Regions from separate parts of the Homo sapiens genome. Here region 1 is linked to region 2. The links come from fine-mapping of genetic effects on gene expression. A gene starts in region 2. The other region holds a variant in brackets. All regions are shown on one strand. Distances are from middle to middle.

Evidence for each region.
Region 1: its variant is fine-mapped to the expression of PGGT1B in visceral fat (GTEx, PIP above 0.99). The same link has a PIP of 0.9 or more in coronary artery and transverse colon.

The regions. Positions count from the first base shown.
Region 1 is chr5:115,210,895-115,213,811 of GRCh38, forward strand. PGGT1B (protein geranylgeranyltransferase type I subunit beta) reads right to left here. Exons shown (of 9, transcript NM_005023.4): 9 at 1-1,689. The coding sequence ends at 1,508. Among named protein-coding and RNA genes, the nearest start is that of TRIM36, 42 kb to the left of the region's middle. The variant T/TC (reference allele first, on the strand shown) is at 1,480.
Region 2 is chr5:115,261,523-115,264,439 of GRCh38, forward strand. PGGT1B (protein geranylgeranyltransferase type I subunit beta) reads right to left here and starts at 1,355. Exons shown (of 9, transcript NM_005023.4): 1 at 1,190-1,355. The coding sequence starts at 1,329. RefSeq lists enhancers at 1,214-1,393, 1,424-1,473.

The DNA of each region.
Region 1 (2,917 bases), 51 kb before region 2:
TACAGTTGGCAAACTCAGGTTTAAAACTAAGCATGCCAATAATAAATCAATCATTTCTCCAAGTACACAGTGTTTCCCTTGGGAAGGACTGTTATTTCACAACATTTTTTTCCCTCTGATTTAGAAAAAAAGATAACATTTAAAGTATTACAATGCCTAAACAGTGATACCAGTAATCCAGTTTTTATACTGATACTTGTATTTCAACATTTATTATCACCAAGACTAACTTAAAGCCAACTCCTTTAGTGAAGAGATTTCTTTCCCCATTTCAGTACTAGACGCAATAGTTCTGAATGTCACTGAGCAAGTAACGGATATGAGTTATTGATAAATTAATTACTAATGAAGAGTTTTTATACTACCTCCTTTATAATTAGCTAGTTCATAGACTTAAAACAAAACAATGAACAAAAACAAAACCCTATTTCTTACCCTCTAAATGGTCGCATTTCCCTTTCACTTACCTGAAAATATGAGAATAAAAATGACCATGTATTGAGTTACACCACTGAATCTGTTTGAATGGTTCTGTTTTTGTATTTTTTACTTATTTAATTTGAAAAAAATTAGAAAAGTATTAGTTTGAAATTAGAGCAGCTAACACACTGGGGGCAATAAATTAAAAACTTCAAATGGCTAAAAATGAAAACACAAAGTATCTTTCCTTCTAGATAAAAAAGATTGTTTTCTTCCTAGAAAGCAAAAAAAAAAAAAAAAAAAAAAAGGCAACTAATGATTTGAGAATAAAATCAAACATAACTGGTATTCACCACAGCAATGTCTAGATAAATGACCCACATAGCACAAAACTTTCTCATTCACAATCACATACAGTTAAGTTGCTTTTCCCTCAGTTACATAATAGTTGTCTTCAAACAATCTCCTTTTAGAAAACTATCACATTAGTTAAACCTATTTATTCTTACTATGAAGTTATTAACTTCATTTATATAGGCCACACAGGTTTAATTGGCACACTTTACTTAAGAATAAGACAAAATAAGTCACTCTTCTTTAAAAAAAATTATGGTCATCTGTTTTCAAAGAATAATCCCAGATACTTAATTAATTAAAGCAAATTTTCTACGATCAGCAGTGAGCTTTTTAAATGATCACTAAGTGTTCACCTGAAGATTATCAATGCTATATGAAGTGTAAACTTGAAAATTTGTGTCCATTTTATAATAAGATACAATTTGCACTGAAGAGTTTTTAAAAAGATAACCTACACACATACAGTTAATTTGCCTCAAACAACTTCTTAGAAATACAGTATAAACATTTAAGAACCACGACAAAGTTGTGGTTCAAACTTCAACAAAGATTTTCTTGAAACCCAGTATAAAGATTACTGGCTCAAGACCATATCCCAAAGTGAAATCAGCAGGAGATTTGATTGTAAGACTCTACCTTTTAAAAAAAGAGCACACTTGGTTATACATGGCTTTTAAACTTGAGCTACAGTTATGCTACAAA[T/TC]CCCCCCACCCTCCCAATCTAAAATCAGTCATGTGGAGATATGTACATTCTCTGAGCATTGTTTAGAGTCCTTGGTTTTCCAGCTTTGATGGAGATCTAGAAGGCGTTCAGAAGTCCGTGTGCTTACATTCAGAGCAGGATGAACTTTACAAATTCCACTTTCCTCCATTAGTGACAGGCCACAGATCCCAAAGTATGCATGCAAAGCATCTGAAAAGAAGGCATTTAAAACATCATAATAGGCATTCTTACTTGTACATTCTACAGAATATTTTAGCCACATATTTACCAGCCCATCACTCCATTAAAAGTAAGTTTAGAGAAATGCTAATATAGTTTTAAAAATATTTGCTTTCTCAAAGCCTCAAACACCAATTAAAAAAAAAACTCAGATGATCAAAATAAAATATTTTATTCATGAAAATATCATTAACAAAGGAAAACAGTTTCCAGCTGAAGAGCTGATACTGTCCATAACCTCTGTGATTAAAAGACAGGAGTAGCAGCAGTCATATGTAAGACTTCTCACTTTGGGGAGTTTCCCCTCTTGCTTACTAGAGAACATGAAAACGAGTAGCTTCAATGCTATATCATTAAGTTTTTTTTTCTTTAAAACGAAAACAAAACTCTGAATCTAAGTTGCAATATCCCTCGCTCCACGTTTTACCTCTGAAAGTTCCTAAACCATATGCAGTACTATCCTAACATTGTGTTAAATAAAAGGAGCTTATGCAAAAATAATCCATTCTGGAATGCTGTGCCATATTTAATCCTCCTATTTAGGGTAATGTCAGTCATTGTAAAAATATCTGATCTGACAATAAAAACAAACTCACATTCTATTTGGTTGAAATAATATGAGTGCTCATACCATGACAATTCTGCACTGGCTCACTAGTTTCCCATCTTTCAGGGGGCAGCGATCCTCTTCTATTAAAGTGGCCAATGAAATCACATGGCCATTCCTGCCTAGGAGTCTTATGTAGACTTCTGAAGAGCTCAGAGCTTTGCAGTTATAGGAACATTAAAAAGACAGTTTTGTACCAGTCAAAATTTTTTTCTATTTTTGAATTGGCCGACATTTATGGCCTTAAGAGCTATTAAAGTTCAAAACAGGCTGGGTGTGGTGGCTCACACCTGTAATCCCAGCACTTTGGGAGGCCGAGAAGGGCATATTCCTTGAGCCACAGGAGTTCGATACCAGCCTGGGCAATACGGTGAAGCTCCATCTCTACAAAAAATACAAAAATTACCAGGTATGGTGGCGTGCGCCTGTAGTTCCGGCTACTCGGGAGGCTGAGGTGGGAGGCTCACCTGAGCCTAGGGAGGTTGAGGCTGCAGTGAGGCATGATTATATCACTGCACTCTAGCCTGGGCAAAATAATGAAACCCTGTCTCAAAACAACAACAACAAAAAGTTCAACACATCTTACCACAT
Region 2 (2,917 bases):
AATTTTTAATTTGATTTAATTAATTCAAATCAAAATAGCCAAATGTGGCTAGTGGCTACCAGATTGGACAGGGCAGCCCAGTCCTAAGTATAGAGGTAAACAAGATAGACGAAAATGTTACCTTTGTGAAGTTTATAATCCAGTGTAATAGAAAGACATTAAACAAATAAACCAATACATACGTAATGTGAGGTGGTCATTGGAAGTGGTCCCTTTAGGAAGGGTGTTTAAGGAAGGCCTCTCTAAAGATATCTGGATTATGTACATGCCTGTCTATATACTCCTATGAACACTACACTAACATATAGCACAGAACTCTATACAAATGCTTGTCTTGTTCAGCTGTACTCTGGCACCTACCATAATGTGGTTCTTGACCAAGTGTGCAGAAGTAATCTGCAAAGCTCCCCAAACTGATCCGGTCATGCAGTGTTCAAAATACACCAGCAACTCAGAATTTGGAAAACGTGGGGAAAGAACACAGCAAAAACAAGCCGCTCTTTCCTCCCATCCAGTCTCAAGCAGCTTTTGAGCTTCACTTCAAAACACAGCAATGCGGAGCAAAGATTGCCTTCTCCTTTCTTTCTTCTCATCCCCAGCTTTTACTGTAAATGAAGTCGCTTAGTCTCTGCCGCACCACACTCTTCAGCTATTGCGATACTTTTAACAGGCTGCTTCACGCAACACCACACCTCTTTCGCCTACCATTAGATTTATAGTTCCCACAAAGTTTCTAAGACCTTAGAGGTTCTCTGCCGCTCCTACACATAAAACACCATACAGACACTCTATTAAGAGTTAATGACTTTAGAGAGGACAAGGATGCACAGAAGTATTCATCTAAAAATACGACGACAAACTTTGTCCTTTTCCTTTTACACTCGGAAGTAATGAGGCAAAGTGACAGGCTATGGGAGCGGGTAAAAAAGCAGCTCAGAGTTGCCAGAAGAAAAGGGAAGTGAAAAAGCCGGAAACTGGAGATGCCACAGCCCTCGACCTACAGCCTTCCAGACCTTCCCACCGTACGGCGGGAGAGTGGGGGTAACCTCAAGCCCACTTGAAACCAGTCAGTGCCAACTGGGCGGCCGCGCAGCCCCCTTCCGGCGCCCAGTTTGCGGTCCGACTCCGCCGCGCCTTTCCGCTGGAGCCCGGGCCTTGTGCCAGCCTGGCTGACTGTGCCACGAGTTACCTGCTTGTCTCGAGTGAAGAATAGCGCTCCGGCAAAACCTGGAGGCAGCGCTGGAAAAATCGCACGTGCCGATCCCGTAAGAAATCCAGCCGCTCTCCCTCACCGCTCCCTGCTAGCCTCTCATCCTCAGTGGCCGCCATGCTGCTCCGGAAGCGACGTCCGCCGCGACCCGGAATCAGTGCCCGCGGAGAGAAAGAACCCTCCTGTGCTGAACCACAGGGTGCCGGGTGAGGGGACCTGCGCCCGCCGCAGACTAAGCCAGTATTTGAAACCGCTATCATCTGGGTCCTGTGCAGCACTTCCTCTCTCCGATATCTCCCTAGCTAGCGCATGACCCTACCTTTTCTACTCAAAGCCCTCGAGGCTTGTAAACACCTCGCAGGCCTTGTGAAAATCAAGTCCACAAATCCCTCCGTCAGAATTTTTATCTTGGGAAGCGCAAGGTCAAAAGCATCAAGTACGCTTTGAGACAATTCTGGCTCTGTAGAACCTGAGGATGGTATATCTGAAAACGAGGATGGATCAGTATAAACTTGCTAACAGATTCATTTTTGGAGGGCCAGTTTTAAGCCGAACGGTTAGGGAAACAGAAAAACAAACCAGTGGAGATAAATGTTTATTGACACTACAAAAGCTCAGAGACTTTCCTAATCTTAATCCTTTCTGGATACCAGGAATCACTTAAAAATCTGTGTATAATGCCCCCAAACATATACAACATGCATATTCATACCTATATATGACTGCTTGCGTCATTCTTTTACAAATCTTACAGATTTTACTTTGCTTGAGTCGACGTGTTATCAAGAATCAATGGTGCATCAATCTGCAACAGCAAAATAAGCTCAATATCTTCTCCAATTACCTGCATTCTAAAAAATTTAAACATGCTTCTAGTTCTTTTTTCCAAAAATAGGGATTTAAGTTGTTTAGCCGGTATACTATGCCCTTTAAACTTTCATGAGGCATTCCTGAGTAGCGGGTGGGGGGATCCACCCAATAATATAACTAAACTAGGTTCCCTGTGATCAACTTAGCTAATAAAATTTTGGGTTTAATTTTGTTAGCTTTCTTAGAAAATGTAATTCTTATACTCTATGGGCTGGGGTAATCTTACACTTATTCAACAATCCAAAGTGCTCTGAATAATTTTTGGTACTATTAACTACTTATTCACAGGTATTCCTGCATGTCTTTACAAAATGCCGCATTTAACAGCCACAGACGGATTCTAGGCTGTCCTCGGTACTTCCCTACAAATACGGAGCTCACAGTCCTTGCCCTTCAGGTGTGCCCAGTCTGGAGTTTCCACTGTTATTAAAATTAAGATCTCTCACTTAGCACACATACCCCCAAATGCCTGAAGATTTTTAAAGTGGAGTCTTATACACATTTAACTTACTGGAATCAGCTATGGACACTCTATACATTCTCAGAAAATTAATTCTAATAAACATGGCCCTTAAGTTAGGGAAGCCAAATGTTTCATCTGATTCTCAGCTCAAGGACTAGCAATCTGATCCAAATCTAGAGGAAAAATTTGCAATGTGGGACTCATTCAGAGATAATACAGAATGCCTCCTAGGTCGGTAAAAGGCTTTCCATGAGTGATTTTATCCCTACAAGATTTTTGGCATGTGCATAACAGAATGGGAATGATAGAACATCTATATAATTGAGTGTTATTTAGCCATTACATGATAATGTTTGAATTAGGTAGAAATGTAC